2 linked regions of the Homo sapiens genome follow. The protein of the gene in region 1 interacts with the protein of each later gene in a pairwise test. Each region holds a gene or a part of one and is shown on either strand. Other genes may lie near its edges.

Region 1 (8,940 bases):
CTAAAAAATACAGAAATTACCCGGGCGTGGTGGCGGGCACCTGTAATCCCAGCTACTCGGGAAGCTGAGGCAGAGAATTGCTTGAACCCGGGAGGCAGAGGTTACAGTGAGCCGAGATCACGCCACTGCACTCCAACCTGGGCGACAGAGCAAGGCTCCGTCTCAAAAAAAAAAAAAATAGAAAAAGAAAAGTTATTTGTGTACACACCTGAGCGAGCCAACTGCATTATGTCTCTGTGTAAAGATGTGTATCCATCCATCCGCCTGTCCGTCCTTGGGTCCATGTGAGCATGTGTGGGGGTGAACACACATTTGTGTCTACCTGTATCCAAGCATGTGCTCAGGGCTCCATGAGTCTGGGAGGTGTCGTGGTCTCCATGTGCCTTCGTCGCTATCTGTATCATCTCGAGGGGTTTGTGAGTGTTTATGTGTGCGCTGGGGGTGGTTGTGAACACAAGTCCACAGTTTCCTGTGTCCATACGTGCGTCAAAGAGGTACTGCTGTGTCGCTAAGCCTACACCAATATACGTGTCCCATTTCAAGAGGTGCGTGTGTGTTAATGGGTGTGTGTGACAGTGTGAACACAAGTCGTCGGTTTCCTGTGTCCGTAGGTCTGTAGGCTCGTCGATGGTCGTGGGTCTGGACATCGGTGTGAACAGGACACTTACATCCCCATCTTGGCGGTGATGGTGGTGTACGTGAGTTCACATCCTGGTTGTGTCTCTGTTTCTTGGCAGGGTTGGGATGGGGATGGGGGTCCATCCATCCACCCCCCACCCCTCTCTCCGCCTGAGACTCAGGACTGTGGCTACAATGGACTCCAGCAGCTCCAGGAACCGCCCCACCCGGCCGCCCTGAATTTCGATGCTTTTTCTAGAAGGAGATTTTTCCCCCCGCCCTTCCCCCTCGCCCACAGTACCTTTCCCCGCCAGGGCCCCGCTGCTCCAAGCTCGTTCCTGCTCAATCATTTATTGACTTTAAAATCGAAGCCAATTCTGGTTTGAAAAAAAGAAAAGGGAGAGAGAGAGAGGGAAAGAGAGAGAGGCAGGCCAGAGAGACAGAGAGAGAGAGAGTCCGAGACGCCAGTGGAGGGGGGAGCAGAGATGGGGCCAAAACTGGAATCAGAGACAGAGACAGTCAGAGACATACAAAAGGACAGAGATGGAGAAAGAGAGATGGAAAAGGGCAGAATACACCAGAGACCGATAAAAACAGACCGAGAAAAAGACAGCAAAGGAAAGAGGTTGTCATAAAAACAGAGACCAGCGGGGCAAACCATGGAAGCAGAAAGATTTGTAAAAACAGAGATGTGATTGTTAGGGAGGGGCAGGCCAGACCCCACTGACCAGCCGACAGCAGCCACCTGCCCAGAGCTGAAGGGTTTCCCTGCCCACCATGAAGGGCTGGCAGCCTGGAGACACCATGCCCACTCCCCTCTCCAGCCATCCTGGCACACTGGAACTGTCGTAACCTGGGCCTACAATCACACAGAGCCAAGCACCGGCCATCGCCCTGGGTCTCGCAGCCGCCCCAGCCCCTTCCTAGCCATGTCACCGGCGTATCCACAGGCATTTTCTCTCCCAGGGTGCTGTGAAATCTGAGGGGCTGGTGTCTCACCCAAGCCATGGGGGAGCAGGCTCAGATGTCTGGCGTGCTTGGCATGGGAGGCCGGGCTGGCAGCCTGGTGGGCAAGGGGCTGCTTGAGCGTGGGGTCTTGGTTCCACTAGGCCCCAAACATCGGCCACACAGCCCAGCCAAGTGTAGCACCAAAGAGGCCCAGCTCAGACACCGCTGGGTAGGCAGTTGTTGTGAGGGGCGCCCAACATGGAGTGGCCGTGGAACTGGAGGTGCAGATGTGGGGGTTCCCCACACTGCCATGGTGCTCAGGGTGCCTGCTCACACCTGCATGCACACTGCAACATGTATGCATGCCGGTGCGCCCTCGCCAACACGTACTTGGGCCTGCTTTCTACAGGAAAACCCGCTCCCTGGGCCACACACACGGCCATGCCACGCAGGCCTGCCCATGGCCGGCCCACAGGGGCTACACACAGACTCTAGATTGATTCACACTTGCATACACTCTCACCTGTGCATACAGGAGTGTGGTGTAGCCACAGCTGACACACACCCCGACAAACCCCTCGCCCCTTGACACCACTGCACACTCCCGGTAGGACCCAGACAAAGTAGGAGCCATACCCATGTGGACTGCCACTGTAAGCTGTGGACACACTTGGCACATGGCTGACAAGGATCAGGCTGGGCAGAGGGGACAATTAGGGCCTGGCCTAGAGAACCCCCACATGCAGGCCTGGCTGGCAGCAGGGCTAAGCAGCCCCTAGATGTCCCCTCTTCGGAGACTGTTACCAGCTGTGGCTTGGCCCTGCAGGCAACGCTGTCAGGGCCACTGTGGGACTCTGGGCAGCTTCTGTGCCCTCTTAGAGCCTCAGGCCACAGCCCAGGGAGAGTTGGGTGGCCCGACAGGCATCCTCGAAGCTTTTGCCGCAGCCGTGCGCCGCGCAGGGAACTTCGCTGCAGGCGGGACGCGCTCTAGCAACGCGCCAAGGTCGGCGCTGTTGTGCCCGAGGCTGACCCGACGGTGTGGCCGCAGCACTGTCGGCTGTGTCCACGGCTGCCTCCCGCCCCTCCCGCCTCCAGGCGACGGGACGGGATTCCCCAGGCCTGCCGGGTCCACTCCGCAGCAGCCCGGGTCGCTGGGGCCAGAAAGTTTGCGCCGAGGAAAGTTTGGGGGTGGGGGGGCAGAGGCTGCGACGTCCGGGGTCGGAGAGGCGCGGCCACCGCTGGCAGCGCGCCCGCCCCCCTCTCCCCTCCCCTGCCCCTCCGAAATTTGGGAGCCCCGCCATTTTCTTAGCCCCGCTCCCATGTGAGGCCTAAACAAAGACTTTGGGGAGACGCCCGGGCCGCTCGGCCCACCCCAGGCACCCCGGCCGCACGCAAGGGCCGCCGCCACGCACGCCGGCCACTGCCACCCTCGGGAACCGCTGCGCCCTCCCCAGGAAGCGTCGCGGGACCCAGTGTCCCCTCTGCGCCCTCGGGACCACCCTCTTGCCACTCTGTCAACCCCGCAAACACTGCCAGCGACCACGCTGCCCGGGTGCGCGCTACAGTAGCCCACAGGTCAGCCGGAGTCCCGCTGCCCATCGCACCCCAGTCGAGCGCGCACACACACACACACACACACACACACACGTACACGCACTCCCGCCTGCGCTCCACGGGCAGCGCCACGACGCAGCTGGCCACCCCCGGAACCCCCAAAAGGAGTCCGCCCGGTGGCCAGGGTCGCACGCGCACGGTGACGCCCGCACGCGTGCCTGGGCTCCCCGCGGCACAGCCTGCACCCCTCGGCGGCCCGCGGGCTCTCGGCCCCCCCTTCCCGGCCGCCGCGCGTCCCCTCCGCCCGCGCCGCCGGCCGGCCTCCCGCGCCCGCTCCCCTCCCCCGGTCGCGCGGGGGCGGCGGCCGGTACCTGGGTGAGGCAGTACGGGGAGTACATAGCTGGGCGCCCGGGCGGGAGCGCGGCGGCCGGCCGCGGCGAGGGGAGGCCCGGCAGGCGGCGGCCGCGCTCGGGCTCGGGCTCCGGCTCGGCTCCTCCGGCCTCCGCCGCGCTGCGCCCGCCCGGCCCGCGGCCCCGCGCTCGGCCCGGCGCCGCTCCGCGCTCGCCGCTCGCAAGCTCGGCCCCGCCGGCTCCGGGGCCGCCGCTGCCGCCGCCGCCGCCGCGCTCGCCGCTGCCTCTCGCGTCCGCCGCCGCCGCCGCTGCCGCCGCGCGTCTACTCCATGCCGCCGCCGCTCGGCCGGTCACCCTCGCCCGCCGCCGCCGCCGCCGCAGCCGCCGCGCTGTGAAAGTGAAAGTTTAGACAAAGTTTGGAAGCGGCGCACTCCGGGGAGAGGGAGCGGGCGGGCGGCGCGGGCGGGAGGAGGGGCGCGGGGAGGGGCGGGCAGGGCGGGGGAGCGGCGGCCGGCGCACACACACAAGCACACACATGCACACACACACACGAACACACGCACACGCGCGCGCGGGGGCGCACACCGACGCGGCCGCCCTGACACGTGCTGGCCCGCGTTCCAGCGCAGACACACGCTGACACGCAGCGGGACTCGGACCCCGCCACACATGTCACGTCCAGAACGCCTGGCCACACGTTCCGCCTTCGAACACAAAGCACACTCGGACACCAGTGCACACAAGGCACAGACACACAACCCCTACACACGGGCACACACACACAGCAGTCTGGGAAAACACCCACGACCCACGCTCTGACATGCACCGTCCCACCATGGTATCCAGGCACACAACAAGGAACCGCGTATAGACATACACCAAAGCAGGCGTCACGTAGACACACACTGATATACACGAAGACACACCAGTGCATGACACATAGAGATGCACACTGATGCACACACACTGACGCATGTTCCTGCAGAACACAGACACATGCAAGATCACACAGCCACACGCTGACACCTTCCAGACACACAATTCCTACACGCAGACACATACACAACACACACACATCGCAGTGCCAGAACACACTGGCAGTTGTGGCAGTACACCCCGATGTACAGAATGACACTGATGATTGAGAGGCCGAGGCCAGTGGATTGCTTGAGCTCAGGAGTTCAAGACCAGCCTGGACAACATGGCAAAACCCCTCTCTACCAAAAATACAAAAATTAGCTGGGTGTGGTGGTGGATGCCTGTGGTCCCAGCTACTTAGGAGGCTGAAGTGGGGGGATCCCTTGAGCCCGGGGAGGTCAAGGGTGCAGTGAGCCATGATAGTGCCATTGCACTCCAACCTGGGTGACAGAGCAAGACCCTGTCTGAAAAAAAATAACTAAATAAATAAGATGACACTAATGAAGGGAAGATACACAATGTCACATAAACACACACCAAACACCTGGAAGTGAATGCAAAGGACCCCAATACAAAGAGATACACAGCGTCACAGATACAAAGCAACACTGGCTGTCACAACACAACACACAGACACACACACACACACACACACTGGGTTGCCCAGATGTACCCACAGGCCTTGGACACACTGACCAACTGATGCCCAGGCGGCTGACAACCCCCCTGGGAGAATCATCTAGCCATGCACACAGGGATCACACACATACACCCATGTCCCTTACGTGCCCCCCCCCCAACACACTTGTAATGTGGCCCTGATCATCGACATAGGCAAATATAGCAGGAGACCCACAGCTCAGCTGTCAGGGACAGAATTGGGCATCAGGGCCTCCGTACATGTACACACACACACACACACTTTGGTGAGGTTCCAGCCCCTCTTGCGGGCCCTGACTCCTCATTTTCAGAACATAAAGGCCTGGGGGGAGAGGTAGTGCTGGGGACCCTGGAGCAAGGGGAGAGGAAGCCCTCTGGTAACCCTCAGGGTGGGTGGGGAGGCAGTGCCTACAGCCCCCAGGCAGCTCCTGCTGAGACAAAACACCCGCCTGCTGCCAGGTGCAACCAGCACCTTCTTGCTCTCTTGGGCCAAAAAGCTGTGGCAATTCTCAGCTATGCATTGTCTGTTAAAGGGGGTGTCAGTGCCCAGGGCGGGGGGTGCGCACGCACACAGGGTTGGCTGTGCCCATTGGGCTCTTGCAAGCAGGCACAAAAGTATGCATGTGTACGTGAGTATGTGTGTAAATGTCCCAGAAACGATATGCTCCTTGTCACAATACTGTATTAGGCTGTGTGGCAGGCAGTGTGTCTGTGGGTGTCTAGATGGGTCTGGTGTCTTCCGGGGACACTGAAGAAATGCAGGTCATGATAGGTGCAAGAGTCTGGCTGGGCGTGGTGGCTCATACCTATAATCCCAGCAATTTGGGAGGCCGAAGCGGGTGGATCACCTGAGGTCAGGAGTTTGAGACCAGCCTGGCCAATATGGTGAAACCCTGTCTCTACTAAAAATAAAAAACTTAGCTGGGCGTGGTGGGATGCCTGTAATCCCAGCTACTAGGGAGGCTGAGGCAGGAGAATCGCTTGAACCTGGGAGGCAGAGGCTGCAGTAAGCCAAGACCATACCACTGCACTCCAGCCTGGGGAACAGAGCAAGACTCTGTCTCAAAACGAAAGAGAGAGAAAGGGAGAGCTCACGCCTGTAATCCCAGCACTTTGGGAGGCCAAGGCAGGCAGATCATGAGGTCAAGAGATCGAGACCATCATGGCCAACATGGTGAAACCCCGTCTCTACTAAAAATACAAAAATTAGCTGGGTGTGGTGGCGTGTACCTGTAGTCCCAGCTACTCGGGAGGCTGAGGCCGGAGATCACTTGAACTCAGGAGGCGGAAGTTGCAGCGAGCTGAGATCGCGCCACTGCACTCCTGCCTGGTGACAGAACGACACTCCATCTATAAATAAATAAATAAATAAATAAATAAATAAATAAATAATAAAAATTTTAAAAAACAAAGCAAGAATCTTTTTGTGTGGATCTGTATGTTGTGCAGCAGAGACTGGGTCTGACTTTGTACTTAAGGTGTCATGAGGCAGAGAAGGTGCCTGCCCGGTCCTATACCAAGCACTGGGGACATGGTGGGGGAAGAAAATAAAGACCATGGCCAGGCGTGGTGGCTCATGCCTATAATCCCAGCACCTTGGGAGGCCGAGGCAGGCAGATCACCTGAGGTCAGGAGCTCGAGACCAGACTCACCAACATGGTGAAACCCCATCTCTACTAAAAATATAAAATTTAGCCGGGCATGGTAGCAGGCGCCTATAATCCCAGCTACTCAGGAGGCTGAGGCAGAATTGCTTGAACCTAGGAGGCAGAGGTTGCGGTGAGCCGAGATCGAACCACTGCACTCCAGACTGAGCAACAGAGCAAGGCTCTATCTCAAAAAAAAGAAAAGAAAAAAAGAAAAAGAGAGAGAGAGAGAAAGAAACAAAGGAAAGAAAGAAAGAAGGAAGAGGAGGGAAGGAAAGGAAGGAAGGAAGAAAGGAAAGAAAGAAAGAAAAGAAAAAGAAAAAGAGAAAGGAAGAAAGAAAGAAAAGAAAAAGAAAGAAAAAGAAAAGCAAGCAAGCAAGCAAGCAAACACCAGCCGGGCACGGTGGCTCACACCTGTAATCCCAGCACTTTGGGAGGCCGAGGCGGGTGGTCAGGAGATCGAGACCATCATGGCTAACACGGTGAAACCCCGTCTCTACTAAAAATACAAAACATTAGCCAGGCATGGTGGCGGGCGCCTGTAATCCCAGCTACTTGGGAGGCTGAGGCAGGAGAATGGCGTGAACCCGGGAGGCGGAGCTTGCAGTGAGCCGAGATCACGCCACTGCACTTCAGCCTGGGCGACAGAGCGAGACTCCGTCTCAAAAAAAAAAAGTGTCAGTGTAGGCCGGATGCGGTGGCTCATGCCTATAATCCCAGCACTTCAGGAGTCTGAAATGGGCAGATTGCTTGAGGTCAGGAGTTCAAGACCAGCTTGGCAACATGATGAGATTCCATCTCTACAAAAAATACAAAAAAAAAAAAAAAAAAAAAAAAGCCAGGCGTGGTGGTGCGTGCCTGTGGTCTCAGCTACTCCAAAAGCTGAGGTGGAAGGATGGCTTGAGCTCAGGGGGCGGAGGTTGCAGTGAGCCATGATCGCGCCACTGCACTCCAGCCTGGACAACAGTGCAGTGTCAGTGTATATGGGTCTGTGTGTGTGTGTGTCTTGAAGTGTGATCACGTGAGTGACTGTGCAAGGGTCCCAGTGGGTCTGGGACCTGCTTGCAAGAGCCCAATGGGCATAGCCAGCCCTGTTTGTGATCAGGGTCTGTGGGGCAGAAAGTGTCAATGGGTGTCACTAGGTGTGTGTTTTGCTATGTGGACCTAGGGCGGTGATGAGGATCTTTGTGTACCAGGGTGTGTACACAGGTGCTCAGGAGTGTCAGGGATCAGGGCTGTCAGGACATGGGGGCTCTGTGTGACAAGGATGTGAGCCTGTGTGTGTCAGGCCATGCCAGAGAGTGTGTGTAGCCATGCGTGTGTGCATGTTTGTGTGTGTGAGAGAGAGCGAGAGCGAGGCCATGTCGGTGTGTGTGTCTGTGTATGAGGGAGGAGGTCTCTGTGTGTCCAGATACATGTGTCTGTGTGTGTCAGGTCGTGTGTGTGTGTCTATGTGAGGCCATGTTAGTGTATGTGACTAGGTGTGTGTATGTGTGTGTGCCAGGGAAGGGGGAGTCCCTGTGAACCTGTATCAGAGATGTGAGTCTGTGTGTGTCAGGCCATGTCAATGTGTGTGTCTGTGAGGCCATATCAGTGTGTGTAACTAGGAGTGTATGTGTGTGTGGGTGGGTGTGTGTGGGTGGGTGTGTGTGTGTCAGGGAGGGGGGTCAATGTAAACCTGTGTCAGAGATGTGAGTCTGTGTGTGTGTCAGGCCATGTCGGTGTGTGTATACACACACTGGTGTATGCGTGTGTCAGTGTCAGGGAGGGGTCTCTGTGTGTCCTGATATGTGTGTCTGTGTCAGGCCATGTCTGTGTGTGACTAGCTGTGTGTGTGTGAGTGTATCAGGGATCGCGTCCCTGTGTGCCTGAGAGTGTGTCTGGGTAGGCGTGTATCTGTCATTCGGTGCTTGGGGGCCTCGGAACCCCGGCTCCCTCCAGTCTGGGCCTCCCCACTGTGCCTGAGGCCGCCACGCCACCGAGGCAAGGCTGTGGAGCAGGGAATCGATATGTCCTTAAAAATTCAAGGGTTTCTCGTAAACAGAAACTTTTAACACCGTTTAAAGTTTCAGGAGTGCTGCGGCTGCCTGCCTCCACACCACCGCTGCCCCAGAAGAGGGAGGGGGCTCCAAGGGGCGGACGGGGGAGGGGTTGGAAGCGGAGCGGGGGTGGGGGTGGGGGCGCAGAGGGGAAGGGGCGGGGCCCCGTGGGGGGCTGGGAGCGGTAAGGGGCTGGAGGAAGGGCCA
Region 2 (6,832 bases), on another chromosome or scaffold:
GGGTGCCGCCCCTCTCTTCGCCCAGGTGAGCCCCATAGGCCCGCACTTGTAGGTGAGGCCGTCTCCGCAGTTGAAGAGCTGCTGTGCTGTGAGTCCGTCGTCTGGCACGTAGGACGTGCCCCCACTAATCAGGTAGTCGGCCATGGCCAACACAGGACACCGCCGCGTGTCTCCGAGGACCGCGCCGCAGAGACCTCTGCCGTCTGGGCCGCGCCAATATAAACCAGCCGATTTCGTCACTGCGCTGCGCGCGACGCTGACGTCAGGGCGTAGTGCGCGCGGGCGGAACCTACCCGCCTCGCTGCGGCGGGGGCGGAGCTGGCGCTGAAGAAACAGCGCATGCGTATAGCACATAGTGGCCTTGTCACTGAGGAGCTGCCACTTCACGTCCCACCCCACACTCCCCGCAGGACCTCGGCCAGTTCAATTAACAGGCAAGGGTTTACTTCTACTGTCCCGCCGGGCTCCTCCCCAAAATAAAGAGACGTTGTTCACTAACATGTTGAAAAGACGTGCTTGTCATTCTTAATAAACAACTAGAGTAAGAATACATAAGAGAAACAGAGTGGTATCTTTATATGATACACAAGTGTATGTTACAAGAATTCCATCAGGCACAGGAGCCTCAGGTTTTAAGGCCTCAATGTTAGGCCAACAAAAAAAAAAAAGGCATGGTAAAGTTTTTACTTTTACATCTAAAATGTCACTTGTCATAAAGGAGGGTGTAATAGAAATTGTCTTTAATAAATCATAATTGAAGTTCCCCTCATTTTTCTTCCATTAAGATGCTAAGTTTATGTCTGATCATGAAGAAAGAAAAGAACATCGTTCCCCTGTGGTCAGCAAAGTCTGTCAGCCCAGTGGAAGTCGGCTGGGGAGATTCCCTCCAGGGTCCATCCATCATTAATTCCATCTCTCTTGAAGATGGAAAGGGGCCACATTTCTTTTCACAGTCCAAGCCCTTTCCCCAGGCCCCAGACAAAAAAGAGTCAGCCAGCAACTTTCTAGGACATATGACACTCAAGGAAACCCAGAGCCACCATCGGCTGAGGAGTCTGCCGCAGCAGGTTTATGAAGATGCAAAGGGGGCAAAGTTTTCTTTTATATTTTAAACAGAAGCAGCCTGAAAGGCTTCGTAACTACACCAATAAAAAAAAGAAAAAAAAAAATGGAGGCCTCTTCTTTAGTGTGAAAGTCTGTCTGGTTTTTCCTGGCTGGTTTCTCTTGTGCCATGGCCAAGGCATCTCAGTGCATAGTGCTTGCATTGGCCACTGCGATGGCCTCCTGAATTTCTCTTATCACCAGGATCCGCGTCAGCATTTGTCCCATCTGCTCTCTGCTGATAGGCTGGACTGAGTACCAGATTGGGCTGTTGGGGGCCACCACTGGCTCAGGTGTCAGGTAAAAGGTGTCATTCCGGCCTTTCACACTCTGGGGGCTGAAGAATATGCGGATAAAAGTTGGGTACCACCAATATAACTTCAACCCTCCCACCCTGAACTTCCCAGACAGATGCTGTCTGCAAACAGTAAGGCCCCAAGTTATTGTGGCACAGCTACTGAATTCCATGCAGCCACCACACACTACATCCTGGTCCTCCTTTGGGACTACTGCAAATCCCCCAAATGTTGGGTTACTTCCCCTCTGCCCCTCCTTCCCACAAACCAGCTGTGATCCATCACTGACTGCACCAGCCTAGGGCTCTCATGGACTCATGTGAGTCTATCCTTATCCTACTTGAAGCCAGCTTCACTGCTCAAAGCGTCTATCTCCAAGTCTTTGCGCTTTTTTTTTTTTTTTTTTTGAGATGGCGTCTTGTCTCCAGGCTGGAGTGCAGTGAGGTGATCTCAGCTCACTGCAACCTCCGCCCCCTTGGTTGAAGCGATTCTCCTGCCTCAGCCTCTGGAGTAGCTGGAACCATAGGCACGAGCCACCAAGCCCAGCTAATTTTTGTATTTTTTAGTAGAGATGGGGTTTTTCCATGTTGGCCAGGCTGGTCTCGAACTCCTGACCTCAGGTGATCCACCCACCTTGGCCTCCCAAAGTGCTTGGATTACAGGCGTGAGCCACGGTGCCCAGCCTCATGTTGTGTTTTCTACCCAATAATGATGGCCATTACAGTGGGGCCCTAAACTTGGGTTCACCCCCCTCCCCCGAACTGTGCTGTACCTCTATTAAGTACTTGGCATGCTGTATCCTCTAACAGTTATTCATCCATCCATTCAAGATTTATTCAAGGGTTACTAGTGCCAGGTCAGCACTAGGTGCTGATATTTAAAAAAATGGGCAGGAAAAGTATTTCCTACCCATGGAGCTTACAGATAGGAGGGGACACAGGTAGCAATTAAAGTTAAACAAATACAAAATAAAAAACAGTGATAAGTGCTACCGAGGAAACAGTCACAGGGAAGAGGTGGGGAATCTGGAAATGCTTCCCTGATAAGCTGTGTTTAAGTTGAGAAGAGGCATAATATGATGTCCTTGAGTGGAGAGGAGCTAGTGTGGCTAGGGAACTAAGAGCTCCACAGACATGAGGTTAGCAAGGGGGAGTGCATCAAAGGAGTTGTCTGCCATAAAAGAATTACTATGTAATGAGAAACCATTGAAGGGGCAAAAGGGAGAAAAAGCTGAGAGGAGTCTCACCTAGATTAATGATGGCAGTGACAAAAGGTCAAGGTCAGGAAGCAGGGCCATGCTCAATATGTGATGAAGGTAGATTCTCTGTACCTTCATACCCTTTTCATGAAAGGTGACTGTAGGGACCCGGGACCCCTTTTTCTATCAGTGCTAGGCACATCACACACCTTTGGAAAGCCAGAGCAAGGCTGCTTCTAAATTTAGCTTTCTGGAAGTGTTTTTACTTGGTTTGGGACTAGAGAATGCCTCTCCCCTATGATAAGTGATCACACAAGTGAGCATGCACACGCATACACACACATGCGCACACATGGACAGCAAGTCACAATAAAGCCTCACCATTTGAAGAGGTAGAAATCATAGAGCTTGATGGGACATCTCAATGGATTCTCTGGATTTTCCGTCTGTTCTGCATACATGTCATCTGTAACTATAAAACACACATCCCCACCACCACAGACCTGGCATCAGACTGCCTTACCTCAGGCCCAGATCAGGAAACTTAGGCTTTCAGCCAGCCCAACTAGGAAATACAGGGTCGGGGGAGGGAAGGTATGAGGCATGGGCAGTGACTACTAAGGGAAGAGGCAGCTATTCTGTCTGGGGCTTCTCTGCTTCTAGGAGGAAAGTTTGGAATTTTTGGCTGGGGAGAAGGGAGTGGAGAATTTTATCCAGCAAATCCCAACCTTTACACTTATCACTAGCCTCACAGGCACAAGGGCAGGACAGGGCAGGACAAGTAGCACCTGTTTTTGCCATCCCTGCCTCCTTTCCCTACCTTTCTGGCCAGTCTGGTGTATTCCAAGGGCCTTCAAGTACCGGATACTCGTGCTTTTATCCTTGGGATTAGAGGGGTTCTTCTTTGTCTGTCGCAAGACCTTGGAGAAGGCCAGCTTCATGTGCTGGTCCACTGTCTTCAATAGGAAGTACCTGGATCACAAGTAAAATGCAAGGCAGAGGGAGGGGTGCCGGGAGGATACCATGACTCATCCTCTGCCCACTGGTGCTTCAGAGGAGCCACTGCCCACATTCCCAAGATCTGGGCAGGCCCGTACCCAAGCAGTGTCCAGTGCAGGAACCACATCAAGATGGATGGTAGGGGTCTGGCAAGGGTGTTTGCCTCACTGGTTACCAAATAAAATGCAGCCAAGTGGGGTTAGGGCTTTCAGTAGCCCAGTTTCTCAAATATATGTCAGAGGAATTCAGAAGGCCTCTTGGATAGCTTCCACACTCTTCACTGGACAGATGCCAGCAGTGGAGCCTCTAGAACACTTACTTGGTATTAAAGAACATGAGGGTGGTCAGCAAGGTGGAGGGGGAGTGAGCCCCAAGCTGCTTGCACTCCCATAGCATCTCCTCAGTCACGTGGCTGGGCAAGACATAGCCTAGGAGGAATAGAGTACTGTCACAACAAGAGGATGGCAGGTGGTCTCTCAAAGGTACAATATGGGATGTGTGAAGCATAAGGACCACACAGGAGTATAAATTTCATCAGGGGACTCTCCCTAAAGTGTGGCAAAAATCATCTGGAAAGCTTCTTAAAACACAGATAGCTGGGTCCCAATCTGTTTCTGAGGTGGAACCTGATGATGAGCACTTCTAACACCACACTTGAGAACCACAGCCTTACATGATTGTTGTTACCCTCTAATCCAAGGCTAACACAGGGCAAAAAGACTGCCCTCAGAGACAGTGAAGTACAGAAAACTATAAACCAAACTCTGCATATATGCATAATTCTCTGAGAGTGTACAGAGCTTTGCATATTTTCAAAGGTGGTCCAGGACCCAAAGAACTGGCATGCACGCCCGTTTGCCCTTACCAAGTCTTCTCTCATCTCAACTGTCTCTAAAAAGCAAGGCCGGCCAGGCGCAGTGGCTGATGCCTGTAATCCCAGCACTTTGGAAGGCCGAGGCGGGTGGATCACGAGGTCAGGAGATTGAGACCATCCTGGCCAATATGGTGAAACCCCGTCTCTACTAAAAACACAAAAAATAGCCGGGTGTGGTGGCGGGCTCCTGTAGTCCCAGCTAATCGGGAGGCTGAGACAGGAGAATGGTGTGAACCCAGAAGGTGGAGCTTGCAGTGAGCCGAGATTGCACCACTGCACTCCAGCCTCGGCAACAGAGCGAGACTCCCATCTCAAAAACAAAAAAACAAAAAAACAAAAAAAACAAAAAAAACGGCTATTGTCATTTCTTCTCTAGATAAAGAGACTGATACTCTTTGGGGGATTTTATTATTATTATTATTATTATTATTATTAGCTAAGATACAGGGTCTCTTCTACAATATTTATCTTTTTTTAAAAAAGGAAGACCAGGCATGGTGGCTCACGCCTGTAATCCGAGAACTTTGGGAGGCGGAGGTGGGAGAATTGTTTGAGCCCAAGAGTTGAAGACCAGCCTGGGCAACATAGCCAGACCTCATCTCCACTGAAAATCAAAAAAATTAGTCGTGTGATGGTGCACATCTGTGATCCCAGCTACCAGGGAGGCTGAGGTGGGAGGATTCCTTGGGCCTGGGAGGTCAAGGCTGCAGTGAGCCGTGATCGCACCACTGTACTTAAGCCTGGGTGACAGAGTGAGATCCTGTCTCAAAAAAAAAAAAAAGGGAAAAAAAAGAGATGGGGTTTCGCTCTGTCACCCAAGCTAGAGTACAGTGACACAATCATGGCTAACTGCAGCCTTGAGCTCTTGGACTCAAAGACTCCTCCTGCCAGTTTCCTGAGCAGTTAGAAATACAGGCGTGAACCACCACGCCTAGCCAATATGCCAGTATTTGAACTATTACAAGATCCCCCCCACAGGGCTGGTGTTACTGTAAGACCCTGGTTCATAAGTGAGCCCAGAGCTAGGTACAGGCAAAGGTCAATAATTTGAATAAGAGCCCTGGTCAGCCAGGTCTGCACCAAAGAAAGATGACATTTGAATGACTACCAAGCCCCTTCATGTGCTGAAGTCAGTCAGTATGCACATGTTTGTGCACTGGGTGCATAATGAGATAGGAGCAGGCAACAGTATTCTCCTGCAGGGTTTCGGGATTCTCCAAGCAAGCACAGTGTGTGACACTTCCTGGAAGCAGAAAAAAGAACATTCTGCCCGATACACTCCTCTTCTGTGTTCTATGCTCTTGCCAAAACAAAGCTGGCTCTCTAATAGTGCATTTCCATCTCTTTAAGGCAGTTCTGACTCTATTTTTTGTCTACTTTTCGGCTATTTTGTGACCCAGTGGCAATGGGAAAAGCTTTTCTGCTCTTAGACATATCTGAAGCCCCCAAGATCCAGGATGAGCAGAAAACAGCCCTTCTCAGCAAAGAAGGATTCAAGGAATCCTCTCACCTCAGCCTCCCTAGTAGCTGGGATCACAGGTGTGCACCATCACACTCGATTATTTTTTTTGATTTTTAGTGGAGATGAGGTCTTGCTATGTTGCCCAGGCTGGTCTTCAAATCTTGGGCTGAAGCAATTCTCCTACCTCGGCCTACCAAAGTTCTGGGATTACAGGCGGGAGCCACCATGCCTGGCCTTCCTTTTCTTAAAAAAATAATTTTTCTCCTGGGAACAATTATTGCCATACTTTGGCATGTTCCACTTCTCTGGGTTCGCTCTGTCACTTGCTCCCTCTGATGTCACTTCCCTAATTTTATTCTCTTCTCTACAATTTGTAATAAACTTGGCTGGGTGTGGTTACTCATGTCTATAATCTCAGCACATTGGGAAGCCAAGGTAGGAGGACTGCTTGAACCCAGGAGTTCAAGACCAGCCTGGGCAACATAGGGAGACCCTGTCAATACAAAAACCTTAAAAAAAAAAACAAAAAAAAACAGCTGAGTGCAATGGCTTGAGCCTGGGTCCCAGCCCGAGCCCAACAGGGTGAGGCAGCAGTGAACTATCATCATGACATTGTACTCCAGCCTGGGAGACAAAGCAAGACCCTGTAAGAAAAACTAAAATAGCCTGGGCATGGTGGCTCATGGGTGTAACCTTGGGAGGCCAAGGCAGGTGGATCACTGGAACCTAGGAGTTTGAGACCAGCCTAGACAACATGGCAAAACCCCATTTCTACAAAAAAAAAAAAAAAAACAAAAACTAGCCAGGTGTGGTGGTATGCACCTGCAGTCCCAGCTACTTGGGAAGCTGAGAGGTAGAAGGATTGCTTCAGCCCAGGAGGTAGAAGTTGCAGTGAGGCAAGA

The links. The genes of interacting proteins can lie anywhere in the genome.
Region 2: the proteins of NFIX (region 1) and QRICH1 interact in binary tests that used the Homo sapiens proteins (3 or more experiments, as listed by UniProt).

Annotation. Positions count from the first base shown.
Region 1 is NC_000019.10:12,990,416-12,999,355, reverse strand, and holds the start of NFIX (nuclear factor 1 X-type), read right to left. Parts: upstream 3,882-8,940; 5' UTR 3,519-3,881; coding exon 3,492-3,518; intron 1-3,491.
Region 2 is NC_000003.12:49,029,207-49,036,038, forward strand, and holds the end of QRICH1 (transcriptional regulator QRICH1), read right to left. Parts: intron 4,023-6,832; coding exon 3,914-4,022; intron 3,568-3,913; coding exon 3,416-3,567; intron 3,068-3,415; coding exon 2,977-3,067; intron 1,439-2,976; coding exon 1,246-1,438; 3' UTR 501-1,245; downstream 1-500. Other genes in the region: IMPDH2 (inosine-5'-monophosphate dehydrogenase 2), read right to left, coding at 47-144. UniProt on the Homo sapiens protein: Transcriptional regulator that acts as a mediator of the integrated stress response (ISR) through transcriptional control of protein homeostasis under conditions of ER stress.